Linked DNA regions of Homo sapiens: region 2 is linked to region 1. The links come from fine-mapping of genetic effects on gene expression. Tissue or cell type: esophagus mucosa. Region 1 holds a variant in brackets; the other region holds the start of a gene. All regions are shown on one strand. Distances are between the middles of the regions.

Region 1 (8,189 bases):
TCTCCTTTTTTTGCCTTTAAAAAATCTGCTTATAATACAGGCCAAATGGTGCTCATAACCAAGGCTACCTGGGTCTGAGTCTTCCAGGCAGCTCTTCCCACTTTGGCTCAAGTAAACTTTTAAAATCGTATTTGGTGTTAGGCCTCTTCCTTTTAGGTCGACGTGAAAAAGCTGTCTGAAACACCGTTAGGAAAAAAAACACTAGATCACAACACTAGAGAAAATATGTTTATATTAATGTAGATTATAGACATGAGGAGGAAAAATTTACCTCAAGAATGGCTTTGCTTTTGGAAAAACTTGTGAACTTCATCAAACTGTTGCTTGAGGCTACCTTGGGGAATGGGACCAGGGAAACATATCATTTTGACCCTATATGCTTTTTCACTGCAAGACCTCTTTTTTGGATGAGAATGTGTTAATTTTGTACATTTTTAAACAAAGTTTGTTTTTTTTTTAAATAGCAGGTTATGCATTATGTAGAGAAAATAGCTATGTTTGAAATGGAAAACTAGCAACAACCGTAGTAATAAAATATAAAGAAATATAGTAATCAAAAAGAAAGAAAGAGATTGCAGGAAGTCTGGAAGAGAATACATCCAAAATGTTAATGGTGCTTATATGTGACAGTAAGAGGAATTTTTTAAATTCTGTATTTTATGTTTGCTATAGTCAACATGGATTCTTTTCATTATCACGAAGACTTTTTAAAAATTACAACATTTACATACATATGATGATCAATTTTTTGTACTTTTATGATATTTGTTCCTACATGGGTCTTTAAACTTGACTAGATGGCAAGTTTCAGAATGCAAATCATAAATTACTTTTAGAACAGATCCTATTAAAAAAAAAAAAAAAGACAGGCCAAGCGCAGTGGCTCACGCCTGTAATCCCAGTACTTTGGGAAGCCGAGGCAGGCAGATCACGAGGTCAGGAGTTCAAGACCAGCCTGACCAACATGGTAAAACCCCATCTTTACTAAAAATACAAAAATTAGACGGGTGTGGTGGCATGCACCTGTAATCTCAGCTACTCAGGAGGCTGAGGCAGGAGAATCGCCTGAACCCGGGAGGTGGAGGTTGCAGTGAGCTGAAATCATGCCACCGCACTCCAGCCTGGGTGACACAGCGAGACTCTGTCTCAAAAAAAAAAAAGACAAAATCTTTGTCAGTGATGCATGATTGGTTTAGTTTCCTTTTCAAGATTATTTAGAAAAAATATTTAGCTGTGTACACGGGCTGCTTTCCAACATACAGGGAGATGCTGTTTGAATACTCCTGCAAAGTGTCTGAAAGCAAATATTTAGTAAGTATTTCAAAAGAATTTCAAACCTCTTCTGGCTTCCTATCTCTGTGGTTTCTCTTTTCAGTTGAATATCCCTGAGACACCACAAACAAAACAAGTGCCCAATCAAATCCACTGTCTTAGCTTCTTCACATTCCCAGACCTCTGTTCTCCTTCCACCTTTCCCTGAATTGAAAGCAGGGCTTGTTTGCTCCAGAAAAACAAACAAACAGAAAGATCTGCAGGGGACTTCACTTCTCCTAGGAGGGTGCTAGGCCAGGACGGCCACATTTCTCAGAACTAAGGGGAACAGAAACTGTCTGGTGGAAGGAGGAAGCTCTCAAGAACAGCACAGCAATAGCCCCGAGGAGCAGGGAGCACTTGGCAGCCAGGGTGAGTGTGAACTTTGAGAAGGAAGAAAGATGTTTAAAGGTGATTTGTAGGAAACTTTGCCCTTGTAAAGTGCTGCATCCCTCAGCCCCACTCCCAGGACAGCACTCCACCTCCATCTTCACCCCAGGCTTCAAACAAGGCAGTATAAAAACTGACTGTGTTTGAAGTCAGACTCCAACACTTAGTGGCTATATCACCTTGGTTAAGTTAGTTCACCTCTCTGTTCTAATTTCCTGAACTGATCTCCTCATTTGTAAAATGGAATATGGTCCTGCCTACTTTATGAGGTTTTTGTGAGGATTAACTGAATTAATCCATTAATATAACCAAAACAATGACTCACTATGATTCTAAGAGCTATTTAGCCATGCGTGAGTTAGCTATTGTTTTTCTGGGCTGTCAGAGTTCAACAGGTGCTGCTTTGAATGTACTTTGAGCAAACTCTAGCTCAAAAGGAATCTTGTAGAATTTGAGATACTATTTTGATTGTTACCATTATCCACTCAGTCACCCAATCACTCCTTTAACCCCTAGACTTAATCAAGCTCTGTTGATTCATACCCCTCAATAAGTCTCCTCTCCAGTGCCTCAATTTTTGCTTAGATCACTGCAAGAGCTACCAACATTTTTTTCCTTTCTTCAGCAACTTTCATCCTCGATGTGGAAGGAAATCAAGATATTTTACCCCAAAATATATTTCTTTGATATACTTTGAGATGACTGCCAGAGGGCCAGCAAACGGAATTGGCCCTACAAAGCTGTCTTTCCTGGGGGAAATTTACATCTGTAGAGAATCTATATTCATGCAGCCAGGATTCCCTTGTCAGATCTAGGAAAGATTAAGAGTCTGACACCTTTAGAGGTGAGAGAATTTGGTAAAGGTAAGAAGAATTTGTCATCTATTCTGTCTGCTACCCATGAGGTTTCATCTATATAATAAGGCCAACTTTGCTAGGCAGGCCTCCTGTTCTGTCTCTCTCATAACCTGTTTTGCCACTAAAGCCTAGTTTACCACCATAGCCTGTTTTTGGCTGTGCTCTGAATCCATATTCTTTCTGTAACCTCGAGGTGGAGGGCTTTCATTTTGAAGGCCCCTGTGTCATGAAAAACTATGATCAAATAAATTTGTATGCCTTTTCTCCTATTAATCGTCTTCTTGTTAAATATTTTCAGCAAACCTTCAGAGAGTGAAGGGGACGCTTTCCCTTGCCTTCAACAATGTCCTTCAAAATGGCACCAGATCCATATGCATTACTCCCCAGCCTAAGCCCCACTGCGTTTGATCAATAACCATTATTTTGTTTTCAACTCAATGTCTTACCCTCAAGTCCTGCTATTTCCCATCCACCTACCTCATCTTTGCCAGTATCCTCCTTGTACTGGCGTGACTCCAGTCCAGGTCCTTCCATGTTTCCTTTTCTTTCTTGGGGTTGATCTTTTCATGATTCTTTAACAAATCAGTTGCTATTAAGCCTTCATGACACTGATAAAAAATCTTCTCTTCTACAAAGTCTTTCTCAGCAATCCCAAGCAAAGTTAGTCATTTCCTCCTTTGTTTACATTTCACTTGATATATACCTTGTCTTTTCACATAACAGGTTGTGCTGGAATTATGTGTTTATGGGCCTCACTCAATGACAGGGACTGAGCATATTTCTTTGTTTGCCCAGAGCCA[C/T]CCCCACATGCCTGGCACATCAAAGATGTTTAATAACGATGTAGTGAGTGAATAATAAATAAATGGGTTAGTATAACATCTCAGATGATATTTACATTGTGTCGATGAAAACAGTCAAACTCTGTAAAATATTTGAAGAGATTTATTCTGAGCCAGTTATGAGTGACTAATGGCCCATGACACAGCCTCAAAAGATCCTGAAAACATAAGCTCAAGGTGGTTGGGCCACAGCTTTGTTTTATACATTTTAGGGAGACATGAGACATCAATTAATACATGTAAGATGTACAATGGTTCAGTTCAGAAAGGTGGAACAACTGGAATTGGGGGCTTCCACGTCACAGGCAGGTTCAAAGATTTTCTGATTGGCAATTGGTTGAAAGTGTTATTATCAATAGAAAGGAATGTCTGGATTATGATAAGGGTTGTGGAGACCAAGGTTTTATCATGCAGATAAAGCCTCCAGGTAGCAGATTTGAGAGAGAATAGATTGTAAATATTTCTTATCAGACTTAAAGAGCCTCTTATATCAGTAATTCCAAAAGGGAGGAGGGTATAATGAGGCATTTTGGCTCCCTTTTCTCATCATGGCCTGAACTCATTTTTTTCAGGTTAGCTTTGGAATGCCCCTGGCTGAGAGGAGGGGCCCATTCAGATGGTTGTGGTGCCTTAGAATTTTATTTTTGGTTTACAATTCATGGGAGAGTAAATATAGTAAAGGAGAGACAAACAGTATACAGGCTCCACCACTAGAGCATATGACTCTGGGCAAATTCCTTATGCTCTCTGTGCCTCCCTTTCCCCCTTGACAAAATAATGACAATGATATCTTTATGTGTATGTGAGCATTCAATTAATCAATAAATGTAATTATGTGTATTAGTTACTGTTGTTGTTGATGTTCATGGAGAGAGTATTACTGTAAACCCCAGGAAAGACAGGGACTTTGTTTTGACTCACCATTTAATTTCTAACATTTGTTATAGCATTTCTTGAGGAATAAGCACTCAATAAAGATTCAAGTGGGCACAGTGGCTCATGACTGTAATCCCAGCTACTCAAGAGGCTGAGGCAGGAGGATTGCTTGAGGCCAGGAGTTTGAGACCAGACTGGGAATCATAGCTAGATGGTGTCTCTACAAAAAATTCAAAAATTGGCCAGAGGTGGTAGAGTGTGCCTTGTGTTCCAGGTACTCAGTAGGCTGAATTGGGAGGATTGCTTGAGTTTAGAAGTTTGAAGTTGCAGTGAGCTATGATTGCATCACAGCACTCCAGCCTGAGTGACAGAGTGAGTGAGACCCCCATCTCTCGCTCTCTCTTTTTTTTTTTTTTTTTTTGGAGATAGAGTCTCACTTTGTTGCCCAGGCTGGAGTGCAGTGGCATAGTCTTGGCTCACTGCAACCTCTGCCTCCCAGGTTCAAGTGATTCTCCTGCCTCCGCCTCTTGAGGATTCATCTTATTAGGTAGCTAAAATTGGTAACATTTGCTGGATATGTCATTTATCAAAAAGTGATTGGGCTGTGGGTATTTGACCCTTAAGTATGAAATGCATGCCTTCTTCTGAGCCAGAGTTACCAGTTTGTTGACTTTTCAGAGTTTGTGACTTATCTGGAGTAGCTGGGATTACAGGCAACTGCCACCAGGCCCAGCTAATTTTTGTATTTTTTTTTTTTAGTAGAGACATGGGGTTTTGCCATCTTGGCCAGGCTGGTCTTGAACTCCTGACCTCAGGTAATCCACCTGCCTTGGCTTCCCAAAGTGCTGGGATTACAGGTGTGAGCCACCGTGCCTGGCCCCCAACTCTCTTAAAAACAAAAAAAAGAATTGTGAAATGAACATAAGTATAATAAAAAGAGAACATAAAAGAAGATAGAAATGCACTCACACACACAAAGGGCAAGTGAGAATGCATTTGTGCATCTGATACAAAGTACAAAACTGTTGTTAAGTCACCTTAGGTGCTCACCACTGTGGGATGACTAAGGGGGACAGTTCTGGAGGCTGGGAAGTCCAAGATCAAGGTACTGGCAGATTTGATGTCTAGTGAGAACCTGCTTCCTAGTTCCCAGTTTTCTCTCATGGCAGAAAGTTGATGAGAAAGCTCCTTGGGGTCTCTTTCATCAGGGCACTAATCCTATTCATGGGCGCTCCACCCTCACGAACTAATCAGCTACAAAAGGCCCCCACCTGCTAATACCATCACATTGGGGGTTAGGATTTCAACATACGAATTTAGAGGGGACACAAACATTTAGTCTATAGTACAATGTAAATAATGACAACTAAGAATACTCACATAGGCCAAGCATGGCAGGTGGCTCATGTCTGATATCCCAGCACTTTGAGAGGCCGAAGTGGGAGGATTGCTTCAGCCCAGGAGTTCAAAACCAGTCTAGGCAACATAGCAAGACCTTAGCTCTAAAAAATAAATAAACAAATAAATGAATAAATAAAAAAATAAGAAAAGTCAGCCAAATGTGGTGGTGTACACCTATAGTTCTAGCTACTTGGATAGCCAGTGCAGGAGGATTGCTTGAACCCAGAAGTTCAAGACTGAAGTGAGCTATGATCTCACCCCTGCACTCCAGCCCAGGTGATACAGTGAGATCCTGTCTCAAAAAAAAAAAAAAAAAAGAATACTCCCACGTAAAACTGAGCAAATTTTCTGTACAGTAAGTCCTCACTTAATGTCACCAATATGTTATTGGGAACTTCAACTTTAAGCAAAATAATGTATAATGAAACCAATTTTACCATAGGCTAATTGATACAAACAAGAGTTATGTTTCTATGGCATATTTCTGGTCATAGAAACATTACCAAACTTCTAAATAAAGACCTAAAACACTTCTAATATTAAACATTAAAATAAATAAATGTTTAAAGATAAGACAGGTAAATAAAAACAAGTAAGATATTTATTTATTTACCTGATTTTTGGTCAGTCAGTGAGTGACAGCAATAGTAGTGGTGGTGGTTAAATCAAAAGTATTTGCAAAGCAAAATTAGTAAGAGGCTCCTCCTACCACTACACAGTTAAAAAACAAACAATAACGAATATAGCAGGCTCACTGAGCACTTTCATACCACATCATTTATTGTTGTGTGTTTGTATGATTACCATATACTTTATGAATATTTATTTTATAATAACTTGTTTTCACTTATCTTCCAACCTGCTTATTCCAGTTCAGGGTCTTGGGTAGCTGGAACCTATCTCAGCAGCTCAGGGCGAGAAGTGGAAATCAACGCTGGACAGGCAGGACACCATTCCATCACGGGGCACACTCACACACACACCCACACTCAGATTAGGACATTTAGACACATCCACTCACCTAATGTGCACATCTTTGGGGTGTGGAAAGGAACTGAGTAGCCAGAGGAAACCCACACAGACGTGGGGAGAATGTGTAAACTTCACACAAACAGTGGCCCAGCTGGGAATTGATTTTTTTTTTCCTTATCAATGTCATAACACAATGACATTGAAAAAAAATGTTATTCAAGGACCTGCTATACTTAGTTTTATAATTTCACTGTATGTAACTCTGAACACCGTATCTTTCTTTAGAGTTCACTTAAGATTCATCTTATTAGGTAGCTAAAATTGGTGTCATTTGCTGGATATTACTTATCAAAAAGTGATTGGGCTGTGGGTGTTTGACCTTTAATATGAAATGCATGTCTTCTCCTGAGCCAGAGTCACCAGTTTGTTGACTGTTCAGGATCTCATCAAACTAGTTCTTTGCTCAGATAAAAAAGAGCTCAATGCCCAGATTGAAGCTTTAATTAGAAAGTTATGTTGAATCTTTTTGTAGCTATATCTTTGCCCACTTAGTTGATCCTCTCCTTAGGATAAATTTTCTCAAAAATAAATGCTGTGTTAAAATTTAATTGCAAGTTTTTATTTTTCTTCCTCAACATTTTATTCTGTAAAAGTTTTTTTAAAACATAGAAGTAAAGAGAACAGTATAATAATTCCAATGTACTCATCCATCACCCAGATGCAACAAACATGAACTCATGGCCACACGTCTTTCATCTGTACTCTTACCTACTTTCCCCTCACCTACTCACCAGCGTTTTTTGTTTTTTGAGACAGAATCTCACTCTGTCATCCAGGCTGGAGTGCCAGGGGCATGATCTCGGCTCACTGCAACCTCCGCCTCCCAGGTTCCAGTGATTCTTGTGCCTCTGCCTCCTGAGTAGCTGGGATTACAGGTGCGCACCACCAAGCCCAGCTGATTTTTGTGTTTTTAGTAGAGATAGGGTTTTACCATGTGGGCCAGGCTGGTCTTGAACTCCTGACCTCAAGTGATCCGCCTGCCTCAGCCTCCCAAAGTGCTGGGATTACAGGTGTGAGTCACTGCGCCTGACCCTCAGCAGCCTATGTTGAAGCAATCCAAGTTATTATAAAATTTCATTCATAGTATTTCAATATCTATCTCTAAAAGATAAGAACTATCTAACATAACAATGCTATCACTGCAGGTATACAAAGTTAAACATAATGCAAAAGGTCTGTGCATTTTAACGGTTGTTACATATTGCTACTGTCCCCTTAAAAGGGTACAGCAATTTGCCCTTACAGCCCTAGTTTATAGCAGTGCCATCCTTGATATTATCAATCTTTTTCATATCCATCAATCTATAGCTCTCAAAAATGATGTCTTGTTCCAACTCTCACTTCATTGATTGTTAATGAGGTTGAGCAACTTCTCATTTTATATTGACCATTTATATTTCTTCTTCTACAATTACTTATTCACATTCTCTTCTATTGTTCTATGCATCAATCTTATTTTCATATTGATTTATAAGTTTAAAAA
Region 2 (8,189 bases), 34 kb after region 1:
ATAATTCTGCAATTATACATACCACCCACCCACCCAAAGCCCTGTGAATTGTTTTGGGTGTAATTTTCTGATAGCCAGTGGTTTTCAGCAGATGGTCCAATTCTTTAAAATATAAACTGAGCTGGGCACAATGGTGCATGCCTGTAGTCCTAGCTACTCCAGTGAGGCGGGAGAATCATTTGAGCCCAGGAATTCAAGGCTATAGTGCACTATTATCACATTTGTGAATAGTCCCTGCAATCCAGCCTGGGAAACACAGGGAGACCCTGTCTCTAAAAAAAAATAAGTAAATAAAATAAAATATAAACTGAATAAAGAAGTAGCTCAACTTAATGAATGTACGGAGTGCCATATCCCCTTGATTATTTTGTACATTGTGCAGTGATCTGTCATGCCAAGTCAGCCTCTGTGGTGAATTCTTTTCCATTTTTTAATTTTTTGTCAAATACCAAATAATGATTTCCTTTACACATTATTCACATTTTAAAAGCTTTTATTTTAGGTTCTGGGGTACATGAACAGGTTTCTTATACAGATAAACTGCATTTCATGGGGGTTTGGTGTACCAATAATTGTGCATTTTATTTTATTTTTTTGAGACGGAGTCTTGCTCTGTCGCCCAGGCTGGAGTGCAGTGGCGCGATCTCGGCTCACTGCAAGCTCCGCCTCCCGGGTTCACGCCATTCTCCTGCCTCAGCCTCCCAAGTAGCTGGGACTACAGGCGCCCGCCACCACGCCGGCTAATTTTTTGTATTTTTAGTGGAGACGGGGTTTCACCGTGTTAGCCAGGATGGTCTTGATCTCCTAACCTTGTGATCCACCCGCCTCGGCCTCCCAAAGTGCTGTCACCTAGGCTAGAGTACAGTGGTGAGATCATGGTTCACTGCAGCCTGGACCTCCTGGGCTCAGGTGATCCTCCCACCTCAGCCTCCCGAGTAGCTGGGATCACAGGTATGCGCCACCATGCCTGGCTCATTTTTGTATTTTTTTGTAGAGACCATGGTTTTGACATGTTGCTCAGGCTAGTCTTGAACTCCCAGCTCAAGTGATTGGCAGCCTTGGCCTCTCAAAGTGCTGGGATTACAGGCATGAACCACTGTGCTGGCCATGAATTATTTTTGTGGTGTATTTAGCTATGCTTCAGAGATTCAAAACCCAGAAGCATATAATTCAAAAGAAGTAAACTGCTGGCTTTAATTTTAATGAGCTGTGGTAGAGTGTGAAATGGTGTGATTTTCAAAGGCAATTTCAAGGACTGTTTTAGTATCAAAGATATTCTTCAGAACAGCCTAAGTGGCTTTGCTTATCATGTGACTCTGGATTCCAGTCTGTTTTGGTACAAGGATTTAGCAAAGTCATGATGTTCTCAGATGCTGGGCATGCAAGTGGTTATAAAAAAGGTCAAAACTCCAGGACAATTCAAAATATTTTACACTTCCAAGCTTAAAATTTCCCACATCTTTCTTGTTACCAAAATTTTTCACATTTGTGAAAGCAAAGTCCTCATTATCTGCACCAAATTTTGATCCAAATGATTGAGATATTGCAACACATGATACTACATTATTGATGAGCAGATTTTTAAAAACTTAATAGTAACTTAGCTACCAAAATACTCCATCAAATGAAAGCCATCACCAACAGATATGTAGTAGAATGCTCATAGTAGCACTATCTATAATGGCTCTAAATGGCAAACTGCCCTAATGTCCATCAGAAGAATGAATTCATAAATTACAGTATATCCACAGAATGGAAAACAAAATGAATGATCTACAACTGCATACAACAATATGGAAGAATCTCACAAGTGTAATGTTGAGTCCAAGTAGCCAGAAACAAAAGAACACATACTTTATGGCTTTATATATAACAAGTATAAAGATAGGCAAAACTACCTATGCTGTTGAAAGTCAGCATAGAAACTCCCCTTGGAAGAAGGCAGTGCCTGGAAGGCAGGTTGATGGGGTTCCCAGGTATTAATAATGTTTTGTTCCTTGATCTGGGTGCTGGATACAAAGGTGTCTGCAGACTGTGAAAATTCATTGAGCTGTCTACACTTAGGATATGTGCACTTTTTAAGACACATGTTTCAATAAAATTATTATTTTTTTAAATTCCACGCCAGGTACAGTGGCTCATGCCTGTAATCCCAGCACTTTGGGAGGCTGAGGTGGGTGGATTGCTTGAGTTCAGGAGTTCAAGACCAGCCTGGGCAACATGGGGAAGCCCCATCTCTACAAAAAATATAAACATTAGCTGTGTATGGTTGAGCGTGCCTGTAGTCACAGCTACTTGGGAGGCTGAAGTGGGAGGATCACTTGAGCCTGGGAAGCAGAGGTTTCAGTGAGCTCAGATAGCGCCACTGCACTCCAGCCTGGGCAGGAGTAAAACCCTGTCTCAAAAAAAAAAAAAAAAAAAAAAAAAAAAGAAAGAAAGACAAAAGAAAAAAAAATCCAGGAAGTCTATGAAAAGACATCAACTCAACATAATATTACTCAAGGTTATTACTATAATTTGTGAGCCGTCAATATGAGAGTCACTCTCTAACCTGGTTATTAAATGCACTGGATTCAAAACAGTTGTCCCTGGCCTAGAATAACTAAAATGCCAAATCAAGTTAATTATTTATCTTTAAAATCTCTAATCTCTCTGCTCTTCTCTCCCTTCAGTGATATTGTCATAGTTTAATCAAAGTCATCTTCCACCTTAAATTTCATCTGTCATCATCTCCTAATCAGTTTCCCAATAGCTTATTTTAACTGTTCTTTGCACACTAACCAAAGTGATGTAAAGTCTAAACCCAGACCCTTTCACTTCTTTTTTTCGAATGCCTCAATAGAAGCCCATTAAATTTAAAATGTAATGCCAACTCCAAGCCCCTGTCTGCCTCATCTCTCTCACATCATGCTGTTCTTTCCCTCCCTCAATATGCTGGAGACACTTTGGCTTTCTTTCTGTTCTTCCAAAACGCCGGGCTGTCTCACCGAGAGACCTTTGTCTGCTGTCCCCTCTGCCCAAAACAATTCATCATTTTATTGGTTCCATGGCTGAATGACTGATGGTTTAAATGCCATCTTATAAAGTTCTCATATAACAATCTTATCTGAAGTTATCCTCCAGTGTCCACACCATGCCTATTTCTTTCCTTGACATGATTAATTACTATTCTATGTGCTTGCTTACTTGTTGGTTTTCTCCCTCTTCTTTGTTAGACTGAAAATTCTATGAGGGCAGCTATCGTGTCTAGCTGTGTTAGGGGCGTATCCCCAGTGCCTAGCAAATGTATAGCATACAAGACGTCCTTCAATAAACACAGAAATACTTGTTTAATGAATTAATAGACATTCCCTAAAGATCACAAGATACCTGTTCAGCCACGAAGAAGACTGCACTGTGCACTGCTGTTCAAAGACATGGCAGTGAAATCAGATGCCTTTCAAACTCTAAGCCTAAGCAGTATTGGCATTCCGTTCTCGGTTTCCTGGCTGTCACAACTACAGTCCCTTAGCCCGAAGCGAAACCCCCTCCGCGCTCCGCCCGCTGGCTAGGTACCAAGTCTCGCGGCCCCACCCACCGCGCAAGCGCGCCCCCTCTTTGGCTGGGGAGCTAACCTCGGGAGGGCGGGGCGCCGCCGCGAGCCACCACTGGCACAGGGTGACGTCGCTCCGCCGCGCAGCTGGAAGCCTGCGAAGTCAAATAGCAGCCGCGGGGAGGCTCGTTCCCATCGGCATCTGTGACTGGCTGCGATCGAGGGCCCGGGCGGCCGGCCAGCCGTCTCGCCGAGTGCGGACTGGCCGGATCTGCTGTCAGTCAGCGGGAACAGACTTCTCCCTCTCCATCTGGTCAACTGCGGGAGAAAAATTTTCGAGAATTTCCAGCAGGCAAGGCAGTGGCCGCTTTGACTGCTTGCTTCGGAGATCCGAGACGACGGAGAAGGCACTCTTATTTACCGACCAAGAAAGCTCCTCCCCCGTCCTCCGTTAGCTAATTAAAACATTTTTCAGGGACGTAGCCATCCAGAGGTAAGAGCCTAGAGAGTGCAATTCATTTATTTCTGCTAACCATGTATGCTGTTCTTTATTGGCGGTCGCGGAATGGAGAGTAAACGGAGAAGGGTTTCCCGGGAGGTCGAAGGGGAGACGTCGGTTTCCGTTCCCCCGCCCCCCGAGTCGGCGCTTGGCCGGCGGCCTCTCGGAGTTCTCAGAGCGTCGCTTTCTTCCCTTTGGAGGTCGTGAGCAGCTCGTCGGGGTGAGGCGGGGCCCAGCTGGGCTGCCTGCGCCCCGGGCGGCGGGTTTCCAGCCCAGACTGCGCTCGGCCTTGAATGTGGCCGCAGGCTGGAGGGCCAGCGCGGCGCGAGGCGGGCAGGGTGGGTGGGCTGGGACTGGAGACCCTTGCCCGAGGCCCCGGAAGCGAGGATGCTGCGGGGTGGGTGCCGCGTTGCCTCCCGGGCGAGGGAAACGTGGCGACAACGGGCTCGGTACGCCCAGAGGGAGGTTGGGAGGCGGAGACCTGGCGGCAGAAGGTGCCGAGGGAGCCCAGCTATTTGCGAGGCTTCGCAGGCAGGCGGGCGTGTGTTCTTCCCACCGTGTGTCACCCTGACCACCCGCCTGTCAGGGCCAGCGAGCCGAGGCCAGGATCCTGAGCTGTACCCAGGTGAGCTTTTCAGGAGGTCCGGCATCGTGAAGGATGCACAGCCCCGGCTGGTTTTGATCCGAAGACTTGGGTTTTACTTTGCGCAGGGAGCGCTGTAGTACTCAAGGCGTTGTAGCTGGTGATGTCTTTTTCAGCAGCCGCTTTCTGTAGATGAGGGAATTCACCGGATGTGACAAAGAGGCTCCAGGTGGAAATAGCCAGGGAATTTGCAGTCTCAAAAGCTCCACGGGCTTTTCTGAGCCTCCCACTGCTAACGTGCAGCAAGGCCTCATCGGTTCTTTCCGTCAGGGCGGAGGAATGAGGCTGTCCTTCGGTTTCAGAATGAGCGACTAAAGTGACAGATTACAATGACGATGAAAAAGAGCAATGAGACCGGTAGCAATGGCTCACGCCTGTGATCACAGCACTTTGGAAGGCCAAAGCGGGCTTGAGCCCAGGAGTTCGAGACCAGCCTGGGCAACACATCGAAACCTCGGCTCTACAAAACATACAAAAATTACCCGGGCGTGGTGGCATGTGCCTGTGGTCCCAGCCCCGGAGGCTGAGGTGGGAGGATCTCTTGATCCTGAGTGGTCGAGGCTGCAGTGAGCCGAGATCGCACCACTGCACTCCAGCCTGGGCGACAGAGCAAGACCCTGTCTCAGAAAGAAAAAGAAAAACAGCCATGGTTTGTGGTGTTCTGGTTAGGCAGCTGTGGCAGGAAGAAGAGCAGCACGTGCGTGTGTGTGTGTCTGATAAAATACCTTAGTTACAATATTTGAGTAGTGAGTTCTCGCTAATAATTTTTTCTTGCAACCTTAGTCATTACTACTGATCACCCAGGCAAATTCCTTGACTGCAATCCTTAGAGACGAGGAAAGAAGAGAGGAGAGTGGCTGGTGACATAATAGACTGTGAAGGAAAGTTCTTAAAGGCATTATAAAGTTACAGGTTTGGGATATAGTCTGTGGCTTGTATGCATATTTACTAACGTGTCTTAAAAGATATCTATGGGAATAGAATACTGAGTACTTTTCACTGCTCACATTTCACACTTTTCTCCAGTCACACATCTGAACATAGACATATTCACATTAAACCTAAGGGGAGTCCTTTGGAGTTTTTATTGTTGTTTTCTTTTTTCCCCTCAGGTAAAGCAGTAAATTTTCTTTCCCTTCCTCCTAGCAGGGTATTGAGAAAGAAGGTATTGGGGTCCCAATTAGCTGAAATACATTCTGGAAATTTCCATACTATTTGAATTTACTGGGATGCCTTAATTGATTTTCTAAAAAGGTCGATAGGTAAATATTTGGTTTAAGAATATTTAAAAGGGCTGTGTTCTCATTGTGGAAGTTGTAGATACCTAAATGCCACTTCATAATGGGCAGATAGGAATGCTTTCTTAAAATATTTTTTCTAGAGGGATAAAATCTAAGCAGGTTTCAGAACTTTAGAACTCCTGAATAATTTTGGCATGTGCTTAAACTGCCCTTTTGACCTGCTTTTAACATACAAGAACAGTTTAACTCAAATCCAGTGCACCTTCCTGCCAGAGAAAGTGCTTTCCTTTTGGATGACTTGACTTCCAAAGATTGAATATAATGTTAAAATGGTTTATAAAAATAAACTAGCCATGTTTTCCGATCAAAAAATTGACCTAAATCTCCCCTGCTTACTTAAAAAGATTCCTTCTCTCTCTTAGTTTGTGGAATAATGAACTCATCCCAATTTTTAATTGCTGAACTGACAAAAGACAATCCTTAGGTGTTTGCTAGTTTGTTCTCCACTCTTTTTGTTTAGAGAACACTGATTGCTTTTTTTTTTTCCTTAAGGTTTTTGTTTTTCACATCACAAGTTCTACTCCCCTTGCCTTGCTGGTCAAAGCATAGTCATTCCCATGGGCATCGGCAGAGCTGTGGGGTCTATGATGGCAGATCCCAATTGTGGAGTTCTGGAGGAGGAAACTTTTCTTAATGTGCAGGTTTAATTCAAAGTTGTTATTTACTTTGGGAACTCCAGCTGCCTTTGAATTGTTTCTTAGGGAATATGGAGGGGATTGATATGATTTAGTTACATTGCAGATGGAAAAGGACATGGAGCCAGTTCGTAACATCTCGTTTACCTAAGCGATGCCGACCTGTTTGTTTGTTTTTTATAAACTAGCTATATATCTGGGTCACATTTCATCTCTGCCAATAATATGCCTTAAAGTAGGTGGTTTCCTATGACTGCCTGCTTTCTGAGATGATTATAGAAACAATACACGAGGAAGGATGCCAGGTTGATGATTGATTTTAAAATACGCAGGTTTTTAGCCTTACAGAAACTGCTCAATTTGCATTTTATCTCATTTCTTAAAAATGTTTCCAGTGGATATTTGTTCTCTGTGAGAATGCAGTTCTATTTTATTATTTAAAAAAAAATTGGGGGGAGGATAAAGAGGAGATAAAACGGCAAGAATATACTAGAACAGTTGCAGAAAAACTTCAATATTTATTTATTTGTAATTCCAGAACTCTGATTTAAAGTAGGTGCATGACTGCAAAGTAGCTCAAGGCTGAATATGGCATATATACTTTCAGACCGAAGCCAAAAGAATAGTATTTTGCTAATCTCAAGTTAACTCTTCAAATACAAATATTTTCTAATAATTGTATTTCTTTAAAGTTCTTTTTTTTTTCTATATGATATAAAGCTGCTTTGGGAATTATCTCCAAATAATTAGTACTTCCATTACCTGGTAGATTGTATTGTAGTTTGAAGTCTCAATTCATCACCTATAATTAACATAATTGGGTTTTTAAATTTTTTTTAACACACCATTGCTGGCTTGAATCCATAATTGTTGCTGAATAAAATCTAACTCTCAATTAGAAGCAAAAGAACAAACATCTCTTGCAATGGAATGTGTTATTTCTCTCTCTCGCTCTCTCTCTCTTTTTTTAAATAGACAATGTCTTGCTCCATTGCTCAGGCTGGAGTGCAGTGGTGTGATCTTAGCTCACTGCAGCCTCTGCCTCCCAGGCTCAAGCAATCTGTCCACCTCATTTTTGTACTTTTTGTAGAGACAGGGTTTCACCATGTTGCCCAGGGTAGTCTCAAACTCCTGGGCTCAAGCAGTCCTCCCACCTCAGCCCCCTTAGTAGCTGGAACTACAGGCATGCGGAACCACGCCTGACTAATTTTTGTATTTTTAGTGGAGACAGGGTTTTGCAAAGTTGCCCACTGGTCTCCAACTCTTGGCCTCAAGTGATTTGCCTACCTCGGCCTCTCAAAGTGCTGGGATTACAAGTGTGAGCCACCGGGTCCGGCCATGTTAATTCTCTTTGATAACCAGAGATGCTGTGTCTCTGCCACTCTCCAACCCCCCAACAATGTTGTCTTACGAAGAAATGAATTTCAGCCTTCTATGCAGGATCTTGGCCAAAAGGCCAAGAAGGGATGACTTCCTAAGTCTTTGATGATACATTACTTGTTTTGGTGGCCATCTTTATTCTAAATTCTGTGACAGCAGAGCTCATATTTTTTTTAATTGCTTAAATATCTAAAGATTG

What was found. PIP is the estimated chance that this variant, and not a neighbour inherited with it, causes the effect.
Region 2: it holds the start of PPM1K-DT, and the variant in region 1 is fine-mapped to the expression of PPM1K-DT in esophagus mucosa (GTEx, PIP above 0.99).

The regions. Positions count from the first base shown.
Region 1 is chr4:88,314,272-88,322,460 of GRCh38, reverse strand. It overlaps PPM1K-DT (PPM1K divergent transcript), which reads right to left. Exons shown (of 5, transcript NR_134238.1): 3 at 5,654-5,775. Among named protein-coding and RNA genes, the nearest start is that of PPM1K-DT, 33 kb to the right of the region's middle. RefSeq lists an enhancer at 1,543-1,622. The variant C/T (reference allele first, on the strand shown) is at 3,359.
Region 2 is chr4:88,280,242-88,288,430 of GRCh38, reverse strand. It overlaps PPM1K-DT (PPM1K divergent transcript), which reads right to left and starts at 3,501. Exons shown (of 5, transcript NR_134238.1): 1 at 3,370-3,501. PPM1K (protein phosphatase, Mg2+/Mn2+ dependent 1K) reads left to right here and starts at 3,870. Exons shown (of 7, transcript NM_152542.5): 1 at 3,870-4,025. RefSeq lists a silencer at 3,508-3,727 and enhancers at 3,462-3,985, 3,898-3,987, 4,028-4,087.